7 linked regions of the Homo sapiens genome follow. The protein of the gene in region 1 purifies or fractionates together with the protein of each later gene. This does not show direct contact. Each region holds a gene or a part of one and is shown in the gene's direction. Other genes may lie near its edges. The genes, in order: OCA2, PSAT1, ACO2, CIRSR, CS, BRI3BP and RNPEP.

Evidence for each region.
Region 2: the proteins of OCA2 (region 1) and PSAT1 purify together in Homo sapiens (affinity purification with mass spectrometry; one large-scale study listed by BioGRID and IntAct). This does not show direct contact.
Region 3: the proteins of OCA2 (region 1) and ACO2 purify together in Homo sapiens (affinity purification with mass spectrometry; one large-scale study listed by BioGRID and IntAct). This does not show direct contact.
Region 4: the proteins of OCA2 (region 1) and CIRSR purify together in Homo sapiens (affinity purification with mass spectrometry; one large-scale study listed by BioGRID and IntAct). This does not show direct contact.
Region 5: the proteins of OCA2 (region 1) and CS purify together in Homo sapiens (affinity purification with mass spectrometry; one large-scale study listed by BioGRID and IntAct). This does not show direct contact.
Region 6: the proteins of OCA2 (region 1) and BRI3BP purify together in Homo sapiens (affinity purification with mass spectrometry; one large-scale study listed by BioGRID and IntAct). This does not show direct contact.
Region 7: the proteins of OCA2 (region 1) and RNPEP purify together in Homo sapiens (affinity purification with mass spectrometry; one large-scale study listed by BioGRID and IntAct). This does not show direct contact.

What each region holds. Positions count from the first base shown.
Region 1 is NC_000015.10:27,754,375-27,757,345, reverse strand, and holds the end of OCA2 (P protein), read left to right. Parts: intron 1-1,873; coding exon 1,874-1,958; coding exon of another isoform or gene 1,959-1,987; 3' UTR 1,988-2,471; downstream 2,472-2,971. UniProt on the Homo sapiens protein: Contributes to a melanosome-specific anion (chloride) current that modulates melanosomal pH for optimal tyrosinase activity required for melanogenesis and the melanosome maturation. One of the components of the mammalian pigmentary system.
Region 2 is NC_000009.12:78,295,708-78,299,924, forward strand, and holds the start of PSAT1 (phosphoserine aminotransferase), read left to right. Parts: upstream 1-1,417; 5' UTR 1,418-1,503; coding exon 1,504-1,563; intron 1,564-4,217. UniProt on the Homo sapiens protein: Involved in L-serine biosynthesis via the phosphorylated pathway, a three-step pathway converting the glycolytic intermediate 3-phospho-D-glycerate into L-serine.
Region 3 is NC_000022.11:41,521,117-41,524,616, forward strand, and holds part of ACO2 (aconitate hydratase, mitochondrial precursor), read left to right. Parts: intron 1-1,713; coding exon 1,714-1,871; intron 1,872-2,088; coding exon 2,089-2,162; intron 2,163-2,713; coding exon 2,714-2,825; intron 2,826-3,500. UniProt on the Homo sapiens protein: Catalyzes the isomerization of citrate to isocitrate via cis-aconitate.
Region 4 is NC_000002.12:174,354,213-174,357,712, reverse strand, and holds part of CIRSR (corepressor interacting with RBPJ 1), read left to right. Parts: intron 1-3,500. UniProt on the Homo sapiens protein: May modulate splice site selection during alternative splicing of pre-mRNAs. Regulates transcription and acts as corepressor for RBPJ. Recruits RBPJ to the Sin3-histone deacetylase complex (HDAC). Required for RBPJ-mediated repression of transcription.
Region 5 is NC_000012.12:56,279,831-56,283,330, reverse strand, and holds part of CS (citrate synthase, mitochondrial precursor), read left to right. Parts: intron 1-339; coding exon 340-471; intron 472-722; coding exon 723-911; intron 912-3,500. UniProt on the Homo sapiens protein: Key enzyme of the Krebs tricarboxylic acid cycle which catalyzes the synthesis of citrate from acetyl coenzyme A and oxaloacetate.
Region 6 is NC_000012.12:125,010,645-125,014,144, forward strand, and holds part of BRI3BP (BRI3-binding protein precursor), read left to right. Parts: intron 1-1,889; coding exon 1,890-1,992; intron 1,993-3,500. UniProt on the Homo sapiens protein: Involved in tumorigenesis and may function by stabilizing p53/TP53.
Region 7 is NC_000001.11:201,981,160-201,985,447, forward strand, and holds the start of RNPEP (aminopeptidase B), read left to right. Parts: upstream 1-1,488; 5' UTR 1,489-1,507; coding exon 1,508-1,954; intron 1,955-2,201; exon of another isoform or gene 2,202-2,303; coding exon of another isoform or gene 2,304-2,357; intron 2,358-4,288. UniProt on the Homo sapiens protein: Exopeptidase which selectively removes arginine and/or lysine residues from the N-terminus of several peptide substrates including Arg(0)-Leu-enkephalin, Arg(0)-Met-enkephalin and Arg(-1)-Lys(0)-somatostatin-14.

The sequences.
Region 1 (2,971 bases):
ATACAGCAGATATTCAGTAAGTCATTTACCTACTAATGGCAGGTTGCCATTGTTATGATTTATCCATGTCCACAGGGAGGCAGCATATGTAGTGATTAGGAGTACACACTCTTAATCACTCTTAATCACACAATCTAACTAGAGTTAGACTGATGCATTTGGATTGTCACACCAGAGCAAACTAGCTGAGAGACCCAGGCAAGCCTGCTTACCTCTCAACATCCCACCTCTGCAGTAGGTGTGATGATGCCAATTCCAGAAGGCACTGTGGGCAGTTGAGAGGGTCCTGTGCATGGAGAGTGTCACAGTGACTAGGTGTTGTGAGGGAGAGTAGGGTTTCTGATGGGTCTGAGTGATTGCATCAGTTCTGGGTGAAATGAAAATGTTTGGTGATGCTAGGTGATGCTCCTTCTCTGCGTTGGTGCCATCCTCAAGACATCAGTGGCTCTCACTTGGGAGCACGGCAAAACCACCCACCAGGAACTTTCTCCAGTCTTGGGCTTCTCAAGCAAGGTCTGCTTTTTGTGGAATTCACCCCTTGGCAGGCAAATTTGCTTCTAAAACATGGCCAGGTGTCTCAGCACCCGGATTGAGATTCTCGGCATCTTACCTGACACTGACTCACTCTACACAATCTGTCACAGAGGAACGAAGGCTTTGTGCTTCCATGAAGGCTTGCAGTGATGTCTGTGATGCCTGGAGTTGACCAGACACTGTCGTGGGTTGTGTTTTTCCAGAACTCAATGATCAGGGCTGACATTTTGCAAACATGTTCAGCTATTTTCAAAAACAAAGTTGATAAAGTTCAAGAAATTTAAGTAGTTTTCCCAAAATATGTTCTGTGTTTCTTTTTGTTTGTTTTGTAAAATAAAATGTGTTCAGAAGAGAAGCCAAGAGAATCCTACCACTTTCTTGAAATGCCCAAGTCTACTCTATAATTTCGGGAGCTGTCTCGCTCATGGAATCAGTTTTTGTGTTTAATTGTAGCTCTGTTGAGGAACCCTTGCTGTGGCTCTTTCTGAGTAGCCTCTTCCTACACTTATGGCCAGGGAAGAGAGAATGTCTTTATAATTGCCACATGCTAGGCTCTTACTGCTAAAACTTAAGCCTTTTGAAACCAAAATTGTAACATTTGCAGGGGCTTCCCTTAGTGACCAGGCAGCACTGAGCAATGGCTACAGAGCGTGCATTACCCATGCCAAGTGGCATCTGTCAGTGCCTGGAAGCTGGGGTAGGAATTTGTGGAGATGTGTGTACATTGGAGGAGGCACACAATGAGGGATGCTTCTCTCTTCTCATGACTGCTTTTGTATCTGTGCATACCCTCCTTGTCCACACGTCTCACACCTCACCGGCTACAGAAGAAAAACTTCTTCTTCCCTTTGCCTTTCCTTAGACAACAGTTGGCCTTAGTTTCCAACACTACTTATCAAGCTCTCCTTGGCCTTAAGTGTGAGGGACTTCAGGAGCCTGCTGGAAGCTGGGATCTCTGGGAAATCTCCAGAGAAGAAAAGTTGGAAGATGACACAAGTAGAGGAAACATCCAGAGATTTAAATGGTGGCCCAGCACATGGCATTGAAAGACCAACAGTCTAATATAGATGAACAAACAGAGGCTCCATATAGCCATTAAAAATTTGAGAAAACCTTAAGCAGTTCTCAAATAAAATTGCACACAATGGAGGATGTCTAATAGAAGCATGCATTCACATAATTTAGTCTAAAACTAACTTCCTGATTTATGGAAATAAAAGGTAGTGGCCATTGTGAAAATGCAAAGGTGCTAAGGCCATGTTCTCATGAGCTATGAGTCCGTATCTCATGAGATTATCCAGATTTCAGATGCCATAACTCATTTCTCTTTGTATTTCAGGCTGGGCTTCCCAATGATGGTTGTGTCCTGCACTGTTGGGATGTGTTATCTCCTTGTGGCTCATGTGGTGGTGGGATGGAATTAATAGACATCCATCTATTGCTCGAAGACTAAAGGAAACTTCATCCATCACAACCCATTAGTCATAAAACTACCCTGACCCCACTGTTTGAAGAAGAAAAGGTGCTTACCCTGGAGATGCTACAGAGACACAGTGGAATAGACCTTGACACTAACACTCTAATTCAAGCGAATGTTGGAACACCATGACCTCCTCTGTGTGTCCTTTCTCCCCAAGGACAAAATGTAGAAAGATGTGAGATAACTTACTCAAGATTCCCCTCCAGAAAAATACGTATGTTTAAAAACCCTTCCTGCTATACATAGGAAAAGACACACATCCACCTAAAATTGACTGTACTGTTTAACTGTCAATTCTCCTGAGGCTAAACACAGTTTGTTTTTCTTGTAATCACTTTTCATGTTAAAATAATCAGCATTCAAATTGTATGCTTTCTGAATATAGACTTTCTGGGAAAAGGTTTACTGCTCGTAAGGAAACATTTTATGTATTAAAATAAACTGTTCCTTGATAAAAGGCTTTGGAGTAGTTTACATTATGTAAAATTGCATTTTATCCATTTATATTTTTCTCTGCAGTTTTAAAGTTATTAATTAAAAGTCCAGAAATTTGACTTGCAGAAGATCATAGGTATCTTTTAAGGATATCTTACATATTTAACAGCTTAGAGTAATGATTTTTCCATTTTGCAAGTGGTGCATGCTATTTCCATCAATTACACAGACGTACACTCGATACCCTCAGTCCTGCTCTCCCTGCAGGACGCTGTGGCTCAGTCGGTGTTTATTAAATGCAGTTCTTTTGTGAAGCATTCCTTGTGAGGTAAGGGTAATGAGAACAAAGACCAAGGGGGAGCCCTGTGCTTCCTGCGAGGTCTCCTCTGCTCTGCCTCATCAGTATCATGGCTATGCCCCAGAGGAAGAAGCCCTTCTTCAGTTTCTGATCTTCTGTGCATGACACCTTGGAATGAAAATGGGGACACTGCTCCGAAGTGATTGTGTGTCAAGCGTCTGACT
Region 2 (4,217 bases), on another chromosome or scaffold:
TTACGTAAAATAATGGATATGTGATGCTTCTTGCATGCCTGAGTTTCTGGGCTGAGATTTATTCTGTCTTGAATGTCGCGGTTTTCTTAATGAAGTTGCTGAGGAACGCAGGGGCCTTGTTCATTTTGCCTTTTTCTGGAAACTTTGTCCTCCAATTCCCAGATCCAGAGCAGTGCCTCTGCTCTCAGCCCCATACCGCCCACATTCTCATTAGGAAAAGCAAACAAAAGCCAAAGTCCTGTCCAGTTACAAGCCTTCTCTAAACGGGGCAGTTGGACTGTATATATTCCTGGCGCATCAATTTTACTCAGACAGGGAAAATATTTTTACATTAAAAGAAACTAGGTTAAATTATGGTAGAGAATGCAAAATTCACAGTTTAAAAATGATGAAATTCCAGACTTCAAAGGAACTTCTTTCTTGCAGGGTAGGGGGAGGGTATTCTGTTTCAGAACCCCATGCGGGTCTCCACTGGAGTTCTTTTGAGAAGGACACTTCTGTGGAAAAGTTTGAGCAGCTCTGGCCCTGCGCCTGGCCTGGCTAGGGGCCACCTTCTTCTGGTTTGGGCTGCAGCGCCCTATGGGTATCGCGTTCTTGTTAATATCTCCTCACGTTTCTAAACTCACAGCTTGTCAGCGCGGGCGCAACCTGAGAGCTGTCGCAGGTTTCCAGCTCACTCGTTTCCCAAAGGAGGAAATGGAGAATCAGCGACTTTAAAGGACTTGCCTGGCGGGCATCCACGCTTCCCAGGCTATCGCTCCTCCCTGCGTCCTTGGCCACCTCCGTTCTTTAATCCTGCAGGAACTCAGGACCCACGTGCAAATACAAAGAACCGTATCCACCCACCCCCGGCCCTTCTTCATCCTGCGCTTCCAACCTTGGGGGGGTCCTCTCTCTCCACTGGGGTATCTGACGCCCGTGGGGGGTGCTTAGAAAAGTTTGGTAGATTAGTGACTGGTGGTTCTGGAACAAATACATCACAGCCCAAACTGGGGGCTGGTGGTGGAGAGGTGGGTGGATGGGGGCTACAAATCTGCTCGGCAACTGCCCTTTCAGCCAAGAGAGAGGAGCTGAGGTCCTCTGGGGTTGGAGGACTGGAACCGGCCAGATTGCGGGCTCAAGGGGCGAAGGCAGGTTGGCAGGGGCAGCCTCTTCCCGCCGCCCACAATCCTCGGGCGGGCGCGCAGCCGAGCCGGCTCGGCTGGCTGGCGCAATCTCGCGCGCTCCTTGCATTGATCAAAAATGGGGGTTGAAACAGTAAACGCGAGGAGGAGCAACTGCTTCGACTCGGCTCAGAAGCGCGACCAATGGGGATGTGAGCTCCTTCGCGCGAACCAATTAGCGCAGGGCCTGCGACAGCACGGGCCAATGGGGCGCCGACTCGGCGCAGGAACAAGGCGGGGGTTCGGGGCCGGCTGCAGACTCTCACCGCAGCGGCCAGGAACGCCAGCCGTTCACGCGTTCGGTCCTCCTTGGCTGACTCACCGCCCTGGCCGCCGCACCATGGACGCCCCCAGGCAGGTGGTCAACTTTGGGCCTGGTCCCGCCAAGCTGCCGCACTCAGTAAGTCCCCGCGAGCGGGCGCCGGGAGTGAGGTTCAGGCGGGAGCACGCACGCGGGTGGGTTTGCATCCCTGCGTGTGGCAGTCGGATTCCCGCTCCCTGCCTTGAGTCCCCTAGGCGCTTTGCATCAGCGTGCACAGCGGGATCAGCAGCTCCGGCAAGCGGGCTTCGGGAAGAATGCAGTTGGTGAGGAAGCTCGGCGAGGCGTGCCCGTGCAGCTGCCCCTGGCCCTGACTGCTGGTGCGAGGCAGTGCACGACTCAGCTGGCCGGGGCCTGCTGTCCCGCCGGTGCCACGCACCTGCAGACGCCCGGGCTGTGCCATCTCCTGGGCCGGTCCGGGGGCTGGGGCGGGGCGAAAAAGAAAAAGCTCTGATCTCTGCCTTCGCCTCGCGCAGCTGTGCGGCGAGCCCGGGCAGTGTGGAGCGGATGCATGAATGGACATAGTGTGAATGAGTGATGAACGGGAATGAACCGATGACAGGTTTTGCATATGCAGTGGATCACGTTAGCTGAAAGGGATTGCAAACTTAAAGGTCCGCGTGTGCGTGCCCCCCTACGCCTTACACCAGTGTTTGCTTTAGCCAGCACTTAGGAACACTGCTTTTCAGAAATGTAAATTTGAAAACCTTCAGTCCAGCTTTCCCCTCCTTGTCCCCCATAGAACCTACCCTTTCCTAAAGCCTTTCTCCCCACCCCCCTCCTTTTTTTAACCTGCTTGTCCCCTAAAGGCGTTCGAGTATTCTAACTCTGGTAGACTTTGGGCTGCTTAACCCAATTCCCTGTTCATTTCGTTCTGGAGTAAACCGAGTGATTGAATTCTCTCCCGGGCCACAATCAGATCTTGCTGGTGGAACTCACTCTCTGCCTTCCCAGGCCCCAGCCCGGCTCCTCCCCTCCCCCGCCAAACCCACCGTCCCCAGCCCCACCCGCAGTGAAGAAGGCAAAGTCTCCGATGTGCCTTGAGCCCATTGTCAGGCGGCTGCCGCCGCCGTTAGATTTTTATTTTTCTAACCAGGATAGAGCTGATAATATGTTGGAGCAGCATGAGGCATAGCCAAGTATTTTACAATTATCAATTGTTGAGCAGAGTAGAAATCTCCCTGGGACAGAGCCTCCTCTGTGTTGTGGTAAGAACAGAGAATCCAATTTTAAAGGGGAAAGGACTTCTTACTTTTCTAGGGGCAGCGCTCACAGTAGCTGAGAGGACAGGGCTTATTTTTTCTCAGTGGTTACAGTTCATTTTAGGCGAGATTCCCTGCTCCAGCTGTGGAGATGTTTCCTGTAGCCTCCTCCTGCACCCCCCATGTTTTGGAGTGTTCCCAACGTTTGTTCCCTATGTATTTCGTTATTAATTTATTACTATAATTGTAATGGCAATTGTCATCAGTAATACAATTATTTGTTATTAATTTTTCTGGGAGGATTTTTGCCCTTGGACTGCATGTAACCTGGGGGGCAGGAGGGTGAGGGGGCAGGCAGATGTTGCTTTTTATGTATTTCCTTGATTTAGTTGAATTGTAAATATTAGAGAAGCTTTCAAACTTCTTTTGACTGTAACCTACAGTGAAAAACATGTTTACAAAATGACAAAGTATACACATTCAATTGTAACAAAAATAAATGCCTTATGAAATGATGTGTAGCCTAATTACCTGTGACATACACTATTTTGTATTCTATCCTGCTCTAGTCTGTTCTGTTTCATTAAAAAAATTAGTCGTGAGCTGGGTGTGGTGGCGCACGCCTGTAATCCAAGCAACTCAGGAGGCTAAGGTGGGAGGATCTCTTGAGCCCAGGAGTTTGAGGCTGTAGTGAACTGTGATTGTCCCACTGCATTCCAGGCTGGGTGATAGAGCAAGACCCTGTCTCTTAACAAAAAAAAAAAAAAAAAAAAAAAAAAAATTGGTTATGATCCACAAAAGCAATGCATTCTTCAACTGGAAAAAAAAAAACCTACTGGATTAGGGAGGTGTGATTTTTCAGTAGGAGTCTTTAAAACTGTTTGTAATTATTTTGGTTATAAACTTTTATAGAACTATTTTCAATGAATGCTGTCTATAAGAAAGATACAGTCTCAGGAGCAAGTTCAAAGATTATTCACAGATGAATGTTTCTCTTTACTAAAAGAAAAGATTCACTCTATTTTATTTGATCAGCTGGTGCTAACAAGCATCCAACATTTCAGAAAACAATAACACATTCTTAGACCCAGTCGTCAAGGCAGTCTTTTTTTTAATCTAATTCTTTTTTTTTTTTTTTTTTGAGAGAAGTCAAGCTCTGTCACGAGGCTGGAGTGCAGTCGCTTGGTCTCGGCTCACTGAAACCTCCGCCTCCCGGGTTCCAGCGATTCTTCTGCCTCCGCCTCCTGAGTAACTGGGATTACAGGCACCCACCACCAAGCCCAGCTAATTTTTGTATTTTTAGTAGAGACGGGGTTTCACCATGTTGGCCAAGATGGTCTCAATCTCTTGACCTCATGATCTGCCCGCCTTGGCCTCCCAAAGTGCTGGGATTACAGGCGTGAGCCACCACGCCCGGCCTTGTCTAATTCTTTATTGTTAAAATACTGTTTTTTGAGACAAGTTGCAATCCAGTTTAGGTTATAGCTGTGTTTTAATGATGCCCTCCTTAGCAAGCATCTTAAAAAAAAAGGT
Region 3 (3,500 bases), on another chromosome or scaffold:
GAATATTCACAATCAAGAAGAATTTTTAAAACTCCTAATCTCAACCCCCAGCCAGGAGCAAGCTCTTAGAGCTCTTGGAGAGGTGTGCTGTGTTTCTGTGTATTGTGTGCATAGATTTTCCCGTTTTACATTTTATATCACCCATGCTGCTTTATGTGACTTTTCATGCTTTACACATGCAGACGCCCTGGCATGCCAGTCACTGGCATCTGCTGCTGCTGGGTACAGTGTGGCTGTGAAGAGCATGGAGCCTGGAGCCAGATGGCCTGGGCTTGAATCCTGGCTCTGCCACCTAACAGCCACTAACAGCTGAGTGACCCTGAGCAAACTACTTCACTGTCTATGTGTGGGTTCCCCATCTGTAAAACAGGAGTCATGATCGTACTGACACCTTTGAAGGTGGTGTTGGGCCTACTGCTGCTATCACCAATGAGAAAAATAAATAAAAAATAAAGTTGTCTGGAGAAGTGACAATATGTGAAAAGAGATTTCTATACCGTCTGGCCGAAAATAAGGGCAATATAATGTGTTCGCCCTTATTCATTGAAGTAATTTTAAGAAAAAAAATATTTGGTGGTTTAATAATTAGAAAGTAAATTACTAAATTAATAAAAGAAACTATCTTGGCTGGTTATATGGGCTTTTGCCAGTAATCCCAACCCTTTTTTTTTTTTTTGAGACAGAGTCTTGCTCTGTCACCCAGGCTGGAGTGCAGTGGCACAATCTCGGCTCACTGCAGCCTCCGCCTCCCAGGTTCAAGCAGTTCTGCCTCAGCCTCCCGAGTAGCTGGGACTACAGGCGCCCGCCACCATGCCTGGCTAATTTTTGTATTTTTAGTAGAGATGGGGGTTTCACTGTGTTAGCCAGGCTAGTCTGGAACTCCTGACCTCAAGTGATCTGCCTGCCTCGGCCTCTCAAAGTTGTGGGATTACAGGTGTGAGCCACCGCGCCTGGCCAGTCCCAACACTTTGAGAGGCTGAGGCAGGAGGATCATTTGATCCCAGGAGTTCAAGAGCAGCCTGGGCAACATGGTGAGACTTTGTCTCTACAAAAACAATTTATTGAATTAGCCAGGTGTGGTGGTACTCACCTGTGGGTCCCAGCTACTCAGGAAGTTGAGGCAGGAGGAGTTGCTTGAGCCCCAGGAGTTAGAGACTGCAGTGAGCAAGCCTCGACTGTGCCCTTGCACTCCAGCCTGGGCGACAGAGCAAGACCCCATCTCAACAACAACAAAAAGAGACTGTCTAGACAGAAAGTGCGATGTTATTCAGGTTTTATAGACTTTTTAAAAAGAACTCTTATTGCCCTGATTATAAAACAATCTTTAAAACCCAGAAAATACTAGAAAGTATAAAAGAAGAAAATTAGCATCTCCTGTCAGCCCCAGCCCATCAAGGATGGCTGTTCGTATGAGCCCTCTGACGTGCCTACACGTGTACATGATATTGCTGTAAAAGGGGTCATAGTCCTAATGTGTTCAGCATCATGGCCAATGGCTACAGCATCTTTCTTCAAATGACGCCACGTCATGAGTTAGCCTGTCCTTTATTGTTGGATATTTCGGTTGCTTGCAACTGGTCTCTGTTAAAAAAGTCTCTGGCCCAGCCCAGATGGTGAACTCTTTTGGCCAAGTCTGGATAATTTGAAGTCAGGTGGAGACCTCTGCTCACTGTCTCCTCCTGACCCTTAACCCCACCACCCACAATGCACCAGGTCTAATTGGTAGCTGCACCAATTCAAGCTATGAAGATATGGGGCGCTCAGCAGCTGTGGCCAAGCAGGCACTGGCCCATGGCCTCAAGTGCAAGTCCCAGTTCACCATCACTCCAGGTTCCGAGCAGATCCGCGCCACCATTGAGCGGGACGGCTATGTGAGTGCCCATATCCCCCTGCCCATCTCCCCCACCCCATGCTGAGTAATGCCTCCAGGCGGCACAAGCCCAGAGGCCTGTTGGGCCGGGGCTGGGGCAGGTCCCAGTGGCTGCCCTGGGGTTCCAGTACAGCACTTCGTCCTGCAGCCACCACATCACCCCTTCCCATCAGACTCTCACCCACCCTTGACATTCTGTCTTCCTCTCTCCCTGGCAGGCACAGATCTTGAGGGATCTGGGTGGCATTGTCCTGGCCAATGCTTGTGGCCCCTGCATTGGCCAGTGGGACAGGTAAGAGGCGTATCTTTTGACAAGACAGCCCCTTGTGCACAGGGTACAGAGCCCCAGAAGTTGGAGGGGGAATTATTGGGGTGGAGAGAAGAGACTCCAGCCAAGGTCTCTAGCTCCAGGGACTCTTGCCCATTAGAAGCCTCTGGCAGACATGCCTGGGAAGAGGGGCTGGGTGAGGAAGGGCCCTGCAGAGGCACTGGGGGGCAACTTGGCTGAAGCCTGGGCTGGCAGGAGGAAGCCAGCGCGGCCTCACCCTGACGGACACAGCAGGAGCCGTTTGGGAGGAGGCAGTGCCCCAGGTCAGGAAACTCAGGCCTTGACCAAGGCCTTGCCTCTGGCTTACGTGTGGTTGCAGGCTGGGCCCAGTGATCCTGAGGTTCCCTTCTGCTCTGCGCGTGGCCCCAGGAGGAGGCAACCCTGGCAGGGCCTCTTCATTTTCCCTCGGTAGGAGCTAGGCTGGGCTGCGCCACAGGAACCCAGCTTATCTGTCCTCGGGACAGGCCAGGTGACAAGGCCAGATATCCCTAACCCTGATCCCTCTGACCTGGCAGGAAGGACATCAAGAAGGGGGAGAAGAACACAATCGTCACCTCCTACAACAGGAACTTCACGGGCCGCAACGACGCAAACCCCGAGACCCATGCCTTTGTCACGTCCCCAGAGGTGAGACTGCCCAGCTGCGCACAAGCCTGGGATGGCCTCTGGGGGTCCCTGGCGGGTCAGAGGAGGAGGCAGAAGGAGATGGGGACTGGGGTCATCCAAGTGGTAGCCAGGAGCTACAGGCCTTCCCAGCCTCAGGCGCATGCTTGGTGCTTCCTGCCTGGGGCTCCCTGGGTCATGGGATTATGAGATATTTATACAGTGGTTTGTGCTTATGAGCATGGAATTTGGAATCTCACTCACTGCCTAGGACACATCCCAGCCCTGCCTCTAACTCGCTGTATGAGTGTGGCCAAGTCACTTACCTTCTCTGTGTCCCCGTAATCCTCGGGATTACCTGGGAAAGTGCGTGGGACACATGCAGTTTCCAACCCCAGGTAGGAGTTCCACAAAAGCGAGGCCTTTGCCATTGTTCCCGTGGCCAGAGTGAGCCTTGCCCTTGGCGGTATTCAGCCCTGGCCGTGACTGGCACATGGCCAGGCTCTCTTGACTTGGTTGTTTATCTGCGTGTTCTACAAATATGTCTTGCTAAATGGGTGAAGGAATGGCTCCTTCCATGTTTTTAGTGTCCTGCGCACTGAGCAGGTTTGCATCATACCAGCATTTCTGCGCCAGGGCCCCCACTCCCTCCAGGATAGCTGTGAGGAGAGAGAACAGCACTGCCGGCCCGGCCCTGCA
Region 4 (3,500 bases), on another chromosome or scaffold:
AAGATAATTCTTGATAAGTCCCATTAGACACATATCTCCCTCCTGATCACATACTCTAACTAGTGTCTAACTGTCCTTTTTACATTTAGTGACAGGGACTGGCTTATTCGCTAGATATAGCCAATTTAACTTTAGGAAAGAAAAAGGGACAGAAGATTGTACTTTCTTTCATTTGTGATAATGTTGGGGTTTATTTTAAAACAACTTTTATGGTTATATTACTGTTAGTTTGACTGCAATAAATACATGGGAAAGTGATTACAAGAACATACAAGTAGTCTTGGCCTCCTTTTTCTTTAGCTAGAAACATGTTTTAATTAACCAGAAGTGTATTTTCAGGTGTCATTTTCCTAAATCCAAACTTTACAAAACTTGCCATATATTCCCCCAAAGTATGTGGTATAAAATATCAAAATAATTTAATAATAAGCCTCTAGACTTAACTACCAATTTATAGGAAATATAAGAGCTAGAGAAACATGTTAAATGGCATCACTGTCCAGAATGTGGGAAATCTACAGGACAAATTACCCAATTTCTTTAACAAATGAATAACAATAGGGAGGGGAAGATAGGTAAATGTTTTAGATTAAAAGAGATCTATAAATCAAATACAATATGTGGACCTTGTTTGTATCCTAATCTGAGCAAACCAACTGTAAAAAGATACTTTTGAGACAGTTTGAGAAATCTGAATGTTGACTATTCGATGACATTTTAAAATTATCAATGTTGAGAAGCATAATAAAGGTATTGAGGTTGAGATTTTATTTAAAATATTCTATGAAAAAAATAAATTTGGAAGTAATAGCTAAGACAAGAATGACAAAATATTGTTAATTGTTGAAGCTATGTGATGTAGGTTTGCAATTTTCCGTAGTATAAAGTTAAATTAAAACACACACACAATGAGAAGGGAAAAAAAATAGATCATCACTGTAATAGGAAGCAAAACTATATTCACTTTAGGGTAGCAATTTAGTTTCAGCCAACAGTGGCATCCTATAAATTAAGTACATAATATATTAAATTTGGGAGAAGGAGAGACAGGCCAGTCAGTCAGTCTGTCCTCTTTCCTTCCCCTTCCCCTTCTTCCTTCCTTCCTTCTTCCCTCCCTCCCTCTTTCTTTCTTTCCTTTCTTTCTCCTTTCTTTCTTCCTTTCCTTCCTTCCTTCCTTCCTTTCTTCTTTCTTTCTTTCTTCCTTCCCTTCTTCCTTCCCGTCTGTCTTTTTTTCTGTCTGTCTTTTGACAGGATCTCACTCTGTTGCTGAGGCCGGAGTGCAGTGGTGAGATCACAGGCTCACTGCACCCTCAACCTCCTGTGTTCAAGTGATCCTCCCACCTCACCCTCTCTAGTAGCTGGGAGTATAGGCATGTGCGCCACCACGGCCAGCTAATTTTTGTATTTTTTGTAGAGACAGGGTCTCACCATGTTGCCCAAGCTGGTCTTGAACTCCTGGACTCAGGCGATCCACCCGCCTCTGCCTCCCAAAGTGCCGGGACTACAGGCATGAGCCACTGCGCCTGGCCAGGAAAGGCATTTCTAATTCAGCCTTACCTAACCTACAACTCACTGCCCCCTTTTCTCCTACTTAATACCATAAAATTGTAGGTGATAATGCATTGTTTGAAAAGAATGATGGGCCAGGTGTGGTGGCTCACACCTGTAATCCCAGCACTTTGGGAGGCCGAGGTGGGTGGATCACGAGGTCAGGAGATCAAGACCATCCTGGCTAAAGAAAAGAATGATGAACTTCGAATGGAGCAGATGGACCTAGTGTTTGCAGTGAAACACAAGTGTCTTTGACTTCAGCTTTAGTCTCCCTCCTATGCCATTTGTGGCATTCCCCTGGGACTGCCATACTATAATTGTGGAGTCAGTTGTATGCCATTTCCTCATAGCCAGAACTTTTGAGTTTATATATTATTCTTTGATAAAATACCTATTTTACAACAGGACATTCTTTTTTTACCTTTCATTGTTTTTGTTCTGTAAAAATGAATACTCTTAGTGAGTAGATTAAGCGCTTTACACACATAATTTTGTATAGCATAATTTACCTTCTAGGAATTTTTTCTTTCCTGAGACTCGATTTCATGGTATTTTTCTAGTAGAGCCTGGGTCTAATCAGAACATGGAACTGTACACAATTGGTATTTTGATACTTATCCATATCACAGCAAAGAAAAGTTTGTAAAATAAATGAATGTTGAAAGCAGTTTCTTCAGTGGACCTGCTTTTCTAAGTGGGAACATTGGTTTTCAATGCTGTGAAGGCTTGGCTGAGATGATCTAGAAAGGAGCCCTCACAAATCTGCATTTTAGAACAAATGCCTTCTTTCTGAATTCTCTAGTATTATTCTACCATGACAAATTTAAGAATAAGCCAAACAATTTTTAAGATCCAACTCCAGCTATAATTGAAATTATTAAGGCACCATACATAAAAGTAGTTATTTTACATTTGAACATATTTGTGTAATCTATTTTATCAACGTATCTGTAATCATCTATTTTATCAACCAAATTTTGAGTTCTCAAAAGATCTGGAGTCATTTCTGTCAGTGTAACTCTACGTAGCCTCTGTCATAATAATGTGAAAGTAGAAAGATACTTGCTAAATATATCTTGATTAAACCTGACTTGTTTCATCTCCTAAACCTAGAACTTTAAACTCAGAACTTTGGTTGATAGGAGAAGGTTTAAGTATAAAAAAAATGTGAATAAGACTGCATTGTGAAAAGTATTACTACTAAGAGCATTTTTTTGTATTATGAAAAGTACCGTAAGATAGTCATGGAATTTGGATAGTGGCCGGGTGCAGTGGCTTACAACTGTAATCCCAGTACTTTGGGAGACCTAGGCAGGTGTATTATTTGAGCTGAGGCATTCAAGACCAGCCTGGGCAACATGGCAAAACCCTGTCTCTACCAAAAAAAAAAATATATATATATATAATATATATACATATGTAAAATATATATTATATAATATATATTATATTATATATAATATATGTATTATATAATATATAAAATATATAATATATATTATATAATATATAAAAATATATAATATATATTATATAATATATAAAATATATAATATAATATATATTATATGATATATATAATATATAATATAATATATAAAATATATATAATATAATATATATTATATAATATATAAAATATATTATATGATATATATAATATAATTTATATAATATAATATATATTATATATATTTTATATATTATATTATATAATATATTATATATATCATATAATATATATTATATATAATATATAAAATATATATGTACATATATAAGTAATATATGTACATATATAATATATCTTATAAAAAGACAATTTCTTATATAAGAAAGTTGAATAGGTACTGGTAAAAATAATAGTTGTTACTCTTTATTAAGTACTATTTGTCGAGCACTTCACTAAGCACTCTATTTACAGTCATACATTGTGAAAGTGTGCTAAA
Region 5 (3,500 bases), on another chromosome or scaffold:
CGGAGTTTGCAGTGAGCCGAGATCGCACCACTGCACTCCAGCCTGGGCGACAGTGTGAGACTCCGTCTCAAAAAAAAAGAAAATTAAAAATTGTATTCTGGGCTAGGCATGATGGCTTGCCCCTGTAATCCTAGCACTTTTGGAGGCCAAGGTGGAGCATTGCGTGAGGCCAGAAGATCGGGACCAGTCTGAGCAACATAGCAAGACCCCACCTCTACAGAAATAATAATTAACATAAAAAGTTCTACTCTAACTTGTTGTAAGGTCTGATGAGTAAGACCAGTCGTGTGACTTCTAGGCTATAAACTTGAGTTGTAATTCTCTCTCTCCTCTCTCAAGGGCATCCGTTTCCGAGGCTTTAGTATCCCTGAATGCCAGAAACTGCTACCCAAGGCTAAGGGTGGGGAAGAACCCCTGCCTGAGGGCTTATTTTGGCTGCTGGTAACTGGACATATCCCAACAGAGGAACAGGTAAAGCAGAAGGATATTATTAGCTCTTCTCATTCCCCTTCTTCATTGCCTTTCTCTAATCTCAGACACTTAATGCTGATCCGGCATTTATAGAGATGCGTAGTGAAGGGAAGGAATCAGCAGAGTTCTGCTGTATAAATGGATTGGGTTGACCTCTCTTGGGTTTTCTTTACTCAGATGTTGCTGTCCTTTTTTATTTTTCTCCTTCCTTGTCCTTGCTGGTGTTCTGAGCACTGTCTCTTTTTCCACAGGTATCTTGGCTCTCAAAAGAGTGGGCAAAGAGGGCAGCTCTGCCTTCCCATGTGGTCACCATGCTGGACAACTTTCCCACCAATCTACACCCCATGTCTCAGCTCAGTGCAGCTGTTACAGCCCTCAACAGTGAAAGTAACTTTGCCCGAGCATATGCACAGGGTATCAGCCGAACCAAGTACTGGGAGGTAGGAAATTTGGGTGGGGTGATCGGTGTGTGATGGGGATTCAAAGGACTTGAGTGTGAAGGGAGGGAAAAAATACAGAATCTTTAGAAAAATTACCTCTGAGTTAATCAGAAACTAACTTAACAGATTTTCATTGGAGGCTTGTTTTTTGTCAGTTGTTGGAATTACAAAGCTAAGTAGAGCATGGTTTCTATCACCAGGACTGTTTGTTTGGTTAGGCTGACACACGTGCAGAAAAAAGAAATTATTAAAATTCCATAGTCGGCCGGGCACAGTGGCTCATGCCTATAATCCCAGCACTTGGGGAGGCCAAGGCGGGCAGATCACGAGGTCAGGAGTTCAAGACTAGTCTGGCCAATATGGTGAAACCCCATCTCTACTAAAAATACAAAAATTAGCCAGGCGTGATGCCGGGCGCCTGTAATCCCACCTACTCAGGAGGCTGAGGCAGAAGAATCACTTGAACCTGGGAGGTGGAGGTTTCAGTGAGCCGAGATCGCACCACTGCACTCCAGCCTGGGCAACAGAGTGAGACTCCATCTAAAAAAAAATTCCATAGTCTTGCTGTAACAGAGGTATGTACACATGGCTGTTGAAACGGAAAAGAGACCTAGGTAGGTGGCTCACACCTATAATCCCAGTGAGTCATGATGCTGAGGTGGGAGGATTGCTTAAGGCCAGGAGTTTGAGATCAGCCTGGGCAACATAGTGAGATCCTATCTGTACATAAAAAAGGAGAAAACAAGAAAAGAAAAGGATGTGACTTAACTGCAGGGTCCCTGAGGAAGGTTTCACAGAGCAGTCTCATGCTAGCACCAGAGGGTCACTTTCCCTCACTATCTTCTTCAAATACAGAAAACTTTGAGAAATCTTACAAGTTGGGAGAACAGCAATTGCAACTCTGGAGTCTAGGAGGACTAATGCCAGTCAGTCATGTTCTCGGCTAGCCAACCTAAGATACCCATCAGGAGTGGGAGAGTGGTTAGTATCCTTGGAGTAGGCTCCAGATCCAGAAACAAATGAGCTTTATTCTCTGAAAATGAAAAGTGTCCTTAATAGTTTACAACGCTGGTTGGGGTATGGAAAGATTGTTTCTTATCCCAATGCATAGTACATAATTCCTTCCATCCTCTTCTAGTACCCCACAAACTCAGAAACACTGGGTAAAAGTACAAATGATCTGGCTAGGTTTACAGGAGAATGTACCATTTTCTTTTGTTCCTTATTTGGAGATAGGTAGTATAGGAACAGAAAATTTTCTTTTTACAAAGCAGGTACATTAAATGATTTTTGGCCAGGAGGTGCCAGCCACCAGGAAGGCCCTAAAGAGTTCACTGTGGTGCAAGACACAGAAGAGCATGACCCACTGCTCTGATGCAACCACCTTGGGTCCTTGGCAAATCTAGATTGATTTAGTTGGTCAATATTAATTTGGCACCAACTGTGTGTAGAGAATTGTGTTTGCAGTTGAGGAAGACAGAGAGCATTTAAAATTGATATTAACTTGGTTGGCATTGGGGAGTTGGTATCAGAATGATGCAAAATATACACATTCACACCACATAAAGCATTTATTTATAAAGGCTTATTTATAAACACTTTAGGTGGTATGAATGTGTATATTTGTACCTGCACACATTAGCAGGTACAAAAGGTCATATAATCTTAATATTTTGTTTTTCATTTTATTTATTTATTTATTTTTTTGAGATGGAGTCTCGCTGTGTCACCCAGGCTGGAGTGAAATGGCATGTGAACCACCGTGCCCAGCCATTTTTATTTTTATTTTTTTAGAAATAGGTCTCTCTCTAATCACCCAGGCCAGGATGCAGTGGCATGATCATAGCTCACTGTAACCTTGAACTCCTGGACTCAAGTGATCCTCCTGCCTCAGCCTCCCAAGTAACAAGGACTACAGGCACATGCCACCATGTCTAGCTGGCATTACAGGCGCACACCACCACTCCTGGCTAATTTTTTTGTTTTTTTTTTTTGTTTTTTTTGGGAGACGGTGTCTTGCACTGTCACCCAGGTTGGAGTGCAATGGCACGATCTCAGCTCACTGCAACCTCCACCTCCTGGGTTCACACAATTCTCCTGCCTCAGCCTCCCGAGTAGTTAGGATTACAGGCGCACACCACCACACCCAGCTAACTTTTTGTATTTTTAGTAGAGACAGGGTTTCACTATGTTGGCCAGGCTGGTCTCGAACCTCTGACCTCGTGATCTGCCCACCTCGGCCTCCCAAAGTGCTGGGATTACAGGCTTAAGCCACCACGCCTGGCCTTGTCTTTTTAATAGAGTTTCACCATGTTGGCTAGGCTGGTCTAGAACGGCTGGTCCAGAACTCCTGACCTCAGGTGATTCGCCCACCTCTTCCCCAAAGTGCTGGGATTATAGGCGTGAGCCACCACCCTGGGCCTTTTTGTTTGTTTGTTTTGTTTTGTTTTTTGAGATGGAGTCTCGCTCTGTTGCCCAGGCTGGAGTGCAGTGACACAATCTCAGCTCACCACAACCTCTGCCTCCTGGGTTCAAGCGATTCTCCTGCCTCAGCCTCCCCGGTAGCTGGGACTACAGGTGCGCACCACC
Region 6 (3,500 bases), on another chromosome or scaffold:
GCATGCCTGTAGTCGCAGCTACTCGAGAGGCTGAGGCAGGAGAATCACTTGAACCTGGGAGGAGGAGGTTGCAGTGAGCCGAGATCGTGCCACTTGCACTCCAGCCTGGCGACAAAGCGAGACTCCAAATAAAATAAAATTAAATTAAAACATAAAATACTGTAGCTGCCCGGGTGTGGTGGCTCACGCCTATAATCCCAGCACTTTGGGAGGCCGGGGTGGGCAGATCACCTGAGGTCAGGAGTTCAAGACCAGCCTGGCCAACATGGTGAAACCCCGTCTCTACTAAAAATATGAAAATTACCTGAGTGTGATGGTGCGTGCCTGTAGTACCAGCTACTCGGGAGGCTGAGGTGGGAGGATTGCTTGAACTTGGGAGGTGGAGGCTGCAGTGAGCCGAGATCATACCACTGCACTCCAGCCGGAGTGACAGAGCGAGACCCTGTCTTAAAAAAAAAAAAAAAAAAAAAAAGCTGTAGCCAATTCACGGAGGCATTTACCCTTCACACGTGAGCCGAGTGGCCCATGTAGGTGGGTTCTATTATGGCAGCACTCTGCGTGATGCAGCCCTGCAGAGTCCCAGCCCCCATAGATACCTTGGTCAGCCCTTACAAGGGAAGGGGCGTGTTTTACTCAGTTTTGCTCAGTTGTTGGGCTGTCATCAATTAGTATCAAGTTCAAGTTAATCCCCTGGGCCAGTAGACCACTTGGTGGCATTCATCATGGGCTCGCTGTTTTTTCCCCTGTAATAGCCAAGGCTGGAAACCATGTAGGTATCCATGAGTATGGGCCTGGCTCCAGGTGTACCATGTTTAAAAAGGATGAGGCAGCTCTGTGTGGTCTGAGTGTGAGTATCTCCAAGACAGAGTGTTGCATGAGCAAAGCAGCTCAGCTGTACACCTGTGCTGCCATTGCAGAAAGAATATGTCTGTGCCATTATTCACCTGGCACGTCTAAGGAAGGGTTCCTCCGGAGGGGGATTCCAGTTGCCAGGAAATGAGAGGGAAGGCTTAGTCTCCACTGAATACCTGTTGGTAGGCTTGAGTTTTATGCTACATGTATACAATATCACTAATTTTTTAAAAAAAAAAGTTAAAATGAGGCTGTACCTTGTATTCATGTTTCTTTAGCCCTGTGTCACCTGGAGGGCAAATAAAGACCTCAGAGGCTCAGGGTCCTTAGAGTTGGATAGAGCATGGGGCTGTATCATTACCAGCTTCCTTGGAGCAGAAACTTCCACTCTTTAAAAATGAGAAACCCGCAGGGTGCGGTGCAGTGTTTCACGCCTATAATCCCAGGACTTTGGGAGGGCCAGGCAGGAGGACTGCTTGAGGCTTAGAGTTTGAGACCAGCCTGGACAACATAGCAAGAGCCCATCTCTACAAAATAATAATAAAGCCTGGTGTGGTGGCTGCACCTGTAGCCCTAGCTACTTGGGAAGCTAAGGCAGGATTGCTTGAGCCCGGGAGTTTGAGGGTGCAGTGAGCTATCATTGCACCACTGCACTCCAGCCTGGTCAACAGTGAGACCCTGTCTCTTTAGAGAAATCAGGCAGAGGAAGGCAGAGATCCTGACCCAAGAGGAAGCATGAAAGACAGCAGGAGCAATGGCAAGCGGCGTAACGCGGCCCTGCAGAGAGTCCCAGCCTCCATAGGTGCCTTGTTCAGCCCTTGCAAGGAAGGGGTCGTTTTCACCAGTTTTTCTCAGTTAGGCTGTGATCAGTACCCAGTTCAAGTCAATCCCCTGGGCCAGTAGTCCACATGTGTGGTATTCATCATGGGCTCACTATTTTTCCCTTCCCAGGTATAAACTCCCAAGCTCCCCAGTTCACTGCTTGACTGATGGAGGAAAACAGTGATTGGGTGATGACCGTTTTCTTGTTTCTGCAGTTCTTGGCCAGGCTGACTGAGAGATTTGTGCTGGGAGTGGATATGTTCGTGGAGACACTGTGGAAAGTCTGGACCGAGCTCTTGGATGTTCTTGGACTTGACGGTAGGTGTAGGGGTGGCATTCACGTAAGGTGTCATTCTATTTTGGTGGTTCTCATAGTGTGGAACTGGTACTCACAGTGAGTAATACATGAGAAGGTTGCGGAGGGCTGGTCAGTGAGGATATGAGTGAACATTTTTTATTTTAATAGTCTCATATATAGGCCAGGCATGGTGGCTCATGCCTGTAATCCCAGCACTTTGGGAGACCAAGGTGGGAGGGTTGCTTGAACCCAAGAATTCAAGACCAGCCTGGGCAACATGGTGAGATCCCATCTCTATAAAAAAAAAGTACAAAAAAATTGCTGGGTGCAGTGATGTGCACCTGTAGTCCCCATCCACTTGGGAGGCTGAGGCAGGAGGATTGCCTGAGATGAGGAATTCGAGGCTGCAGTGAGCTATGATCATGCCACTGTACTCCAGACTGGACGACAGAGCAAGACTCCTCTCAAATAATCATAAAAATAAAAAACAAATGGCCCATCAAAGCTGAGATTTCCCAGATGCCACTTAGGATAAGGTGCGACTGGGTAGTGGGAGTGCCAATTTGTGTGCAAAACACATGGACCAGAGGTATAGTGCTCTGGCTTACTGGCATCCGTGCAAGAAATGACTAGTTATTTAGGCAGAAGGGGATTTCATGAGACAGAGACACTCACAGAACCATCAGAAAGGCTGAGGAAGAGATGCATGGCCTCAGACACTGCCGAACTGGCTGTCCAGGGTTGCAGCTGTTGAAACCGTTGAGTTCGAAGTCACACAACTGTAGTATAATTTGAGGACCAGGAGGCCACTGCTGCCGCCACAACAACTAGACTTTGCATGTGGGTGCAGGGACCCTTGCCATTTCTGGAACCATGCATATCAGCTGCAACACTTCACTTAATTTCCAAAGTCGTGTGTGTATGGGGGAACTGCCAGGTGGAACTTACTTTCTGTCCAGTCCCTAGCTGCGAGGGAGGCAGGCTAATGCGGTTCTTAGCTCTCCAGCTTCTGCCATCCAGGAAGGCAGCCTGGGAGCAGGTGTCACCTGATGCTGCACCAGCCCATCCACCATACCCACCGCACAGGGCAAGAATTGCCAGGGGAGCTGGCCCCTGGTTTTGTGGGCTAGGGGAGGAGGGTAGTCCAGTTTGATAGTGCAGTGCTAGTCACACGTTTATAATCAGGAAGAGAACATTGGTGAGGCACGGCCCCTCCCTTTCTACATGTGGGAGGGGGCACTGATACTGGTCTTGGCGGATGGCAAGGCAGCAACGGTCATGGTAACTGAGCTGGGCACTCCTAGTCCAGTCCTGCAGCCTGTGCTACCCCCAGCCTTACACTCCCCTTCCCAGGTGGCTCTGCCCCACCTCCACCTGCATTCCATCGGTGGGTGACAGGAGCTAACCCGGGCAGAGTGCCCAGGGTGTACAGCTTTTATACCCAGAGGAGACCTTGTCCCTTACCGCCTTAAGAGCTTCAGAGGCATCCCATGCTCTCAGGATGAAGTAACCTTCCCGTTTTCTCTAC
Region 7 (4,288 bases), on another chromosome or scaffold:
AATGTTTTTGTAGAGAGGGGGTCTCCCTCTGTTGCGTAGCCTCATCTTGAACTCCTGGGCTCAAGCGATCCTCCTGCCTCAGCTTCCCAAAGTGTTGGGATTACAGGCGTGAGCCACCACACCCAGCCTAAAATCTTTTACCCTTTAGCTAAGGATGACATCCTCTTCCTCTGTCAATATTTAACTAGAAGGATCAGGCTAGGCATCTCTTCGTTGTGCTCCCCAGCATCCTTTTCTTCCCGTATCAAGCGCAGCACGTGGAAGTGTCGTGACCTGTTTTCTTGTGCGTCTGCTAAAATGTGAGTTAGGCTATGAACACCATAGGAAGAGGAATTGTGCCGGACTTATTCAAACTGTACCCCAGGCACTTAGCTTAACAACTGGTGTCTAGCAGATACTCAGCAAAAGTGCATTGCATCGAAGACTGAATAATTTCAAGATAGGAGTATTCAACGTCTAATATGTACCAAGCGCTGTTCTCAATGCTACAGAAAAGCAGGTTTCTAAGGTTTCTGGAGTTAAACAAAAAACCCTGACATTGAACTTACATGGAATATTAAAGTCATTATCTACCATAAGCATTATTTCATGAAATAAAATAATTTCAACTCTACAAAACTAGGAAGCACAGAACGGAATACTATTTCCCTTAATGAAAAACTCCCTACATTGTTCTTTTTAAAAATCTCATTTCCTAGCTGAACGGTAAAAACATCATCATTGATTAGCTCCTATTCATAGAAGGCCCATTGCAACCCACTGGTACAGAAGAGAAACAAAGTATTCAGCGGAGAATACCCTAGCTCAATAAGCGGTACAATACAGTAAGGGAAATAGAAGTGACATGCGATGGACAGCCAGGCCTTAAATTGCGCGGTGCTGATTCCTGTCCCTTAACCCAACAATAGAAAGATAGGCGTGCCTGGAGTTGCTGGGGGACGAGGCTCGATCCAGTGTGAATTCCGTGAAGTTGTGCAGGGTTTCACTGTTTGCTGAGTGTGTTAGACAGGTTACCTGGTAGAGTTCTCACATTACTTCGTGAGATACACAGATATTATGACTCTATTATACTGGTGCAGAAAAAGGCTCGGGAAGATTCATGTTTCTTGTGCGACTTGCCCAAGGTGACACACAGTTCTAACAACTGGCCTATCGCAGGGTGTGAGATCTGGAACTCAGACCTTCCCAGCCAGGGCTCAGTCCACGCCACTGCCTAGATGAGGCAGCAGGAAGGGTCAGCAGAGAAGGGTGCCCCACCGGGACGACTGGAACACCTCAGTAGGATATGGGTGGGCAAACGTGGGCCACACGATCCCACCGGCCTCTTTTGTCCTAAGTCCCGAGGCACGGGTGCAGCTAGAAGAGTGGGCGGTAAAGCGCAGGGAGGGGATGCGGTCGGGAGCAGATTTCGGGGGCGGGGCCCGCGCGGCGGGGGCGGGCCCGCGGCGCTCGGGGCGGGGCTCCCCTCGGGTTCGCGGCCCGGCCGGTGAGCAACGGCTCTGCGGCCATGGCGAGCGGCGAGCATTCCCCCGGCAGCGGCGCGGCCCGGCGGCCGCTGCACTCCGCGCAGGCTGTGGACGTGGCCTCGGCCTCCAACTTCCGGGCCTTTGAGCTGCTGCACTTGCACCTGGACCTGCGGGCTGAGTTCGGGCCTCCAGGGCCCGGCGCAGGGAGCCGGGGGCTGAGCGGCACCGCGGTCCTGGACCTGCGCTGCCTGGAGCCCGAGGGCGCCGCCGAGCTGCGGCTGGACTCGCACCCGTGCCTGGAGGTGACGGCGGCGGCGCTGCGGCGGGAGCGGCCCGGCTCGGAGGAGCCGCCTGCGGAGCCCGTGAGCTTCTACACGCAGCCCTTCTCGCACTATGGCCAGGCCCTGTGCGTGTCCTTCCCGCAGCCCTGCCGCGCCGCCGAGCGCCTCCAGGTGCTGCTCACCTACCGCGTCGGGGAGGGACCCGGGGTGAGTGCGCCCCAGACTGCGCCCGCCGCTGCCTGCCTGCCCTTCCGGCCCCCAGCCGCCCTGCACCCTCACCTACCCCACCCGGGAGGAGGGACAGGGAGGACCCTTCCAGAGCGTCCCTAGAGGGGCCTACTCCCCGCGCGCCGCCTCTAGGCCTCCTCCCCTTGCTTCCTCTTTTCCTCCCGGGCTGCCTGGTTTCCTTCTGGACTTCCTCCAGCCACTGGGCGGTGCATCCTTCACCCTTTCCGTCCTTCCGCGTCTCCTCCCTGGCCCTGGAGGCTTGTCCAGATTGCGCCGCATTCCCGCTCATCGCACACTGCCGTTTCTAACATTTTCCGTGGCTTTCTAGATGACCTGTTGTTCATGCACTTCACTTAGTGCCCTCTTGGACTTTTGGGCCGAGGTACCTGATTATCAGCCACCTTATCTCTGCTTTATGGTGGCTCTAGAATTAGCCAGATGTTGATCTAGCTCTTTGTTCTGTGTTGCCTTCTAGTTCCACGGTTAAAGCTCTTATCTTTGTTTTTGTTTCCTCCTGTGAAGTCCTGGATTTGATTAACGAAAGAATTTGAGTAAAAGTGAGAACTGGAATTAGGGTGCTATAAGCATTATAATAATTTGGCCTTCTCACTGTTGGTTAACTCTTTAATTTTTTTTCGGGACGGGGCAAATATTGGAAATAAGAGGATGGAGTTATGTGGCTTATGTCTGTAAGAGTCAGAAAATCCTTCCTGGAGAGTCCTTAGGCTGTGGCTGCCAGTTATCTCTCAGGTAGAGTTGGTTGCAAGTTTCATAGTAAACTGCTTGCTTACAGTTTAATCTTTTATTTATTTATTTGAGGCAGAGTCTCACTCTCGTCCAGGCTGGAGTGCAGTGGCAAGATCTCGGCTCACTGCAACCTCTGCGTCGTGGGTTCGAGCGATTCTCGTACCTCACCCTCCCTAGTAGCTGGGACTACAGGCGTGCGCCACCACACCCGGCTAATTTTTGTATTGTTTAGTAGAGACAAAATTTCACCATTTTGGTCAGGCTGGTCTCGAACTCCTGACCTCGTGATCCGCCTGCCTCGGCGGCCTCCCAAAGTGCTGGGATTACAGGCGTGAGCCACTGCGCCCGGCCCACAGCTTGGTTTTATACATTAGGGAGACATGATACATCAGTCAGTATATGTAAGAAGTACATTGGTTGGGTCTGAAAAGGTGGGACAACTTGCAGCAAAGGCAGGAAGACTTGAAGCGGCTTCCGGATCACAGATAGGTGATACACAAATGGTTACATTCTTTTGAGTTTCTGATGAGCCTTTCCAAAGGAAGCAAATCAGATATGCATCCATCTCAGTGAGCAGAGTAGTGGCTTTGAATAGAATGGGAGGCAGGTGTGCCCTAAGCGGTTCCCAGGTTGAGTTTTCTTTAGTGATTTTGGGGGCCCAAGAGATTTTCCTTTCACAGCCTGATAACACCACTGCACTCCAGCCTGAGCAACAGAGTGCGACCCTGTTTTAACAACAACAACAAAAAAGCAAAGATGATGAGTAAGCAATTTTGGTGGAGGGGGGATGATGGCTAATATTTAATAAGATGAGCCAGGCACTAGTCTAAGTGCTTGACATAGGTTAAATGAGTTGTCTTTCCATAAGTGGTTAATATGGTGCGTGGTACATGGTAAGTAAGCTGTGTTAGCTCTTACTGCTAACTTTTGTATTTCTTTCTTTTTTTTTTTTTTTTTTTTTTTTTTTTTTTTTTTTGAGAAGGGATCAAAAAGCTCCCTACATTGTTCTTTTTAAAAATCTCGTTTCCAGGCTGGGTGTGGTGGCTCACATCTGTAATCCCAGCACTTTGGGAGGCCAGGGCTGGCAGATCACCTGAGGTCAGGAGTTTGAGACCAGCCTGGCCAACATGGTGAAACCCTACCTCCACTAAAAATACAAAAATTAGCTGGTTGTGGTGGCTCACACCTGTAAACCCAGCTACCTGGGAGCCTGAGGCAGGAGGATCGCTTGAATCTGGGACACAGAGGTTGCAGTGAGCTGAGATCATGCCATTGCATTCCAGCCTGGGTGACACAGCGAGGCTCCATCTAAAAAAAAAAAAAAAAAATACTCATTTCCTAGCTGATCAGTAAAAACATCACTGACTGATGGCATTCAATGATCAGTCAATTGATCAATTCTTATTGACTGGTATAGTGGCACCATCTCAGCTCACTGCAGCCTTGACCTCCCTGGCTCAAGTGATCCTCCCACCTTAGCCTCCTGAGTAGCTGGGGTAGCTGGGACCAACCACAGACCTGCCACCTCCACACTTGGCTAATTTTTGTTATTTTTTGTAGAGATGG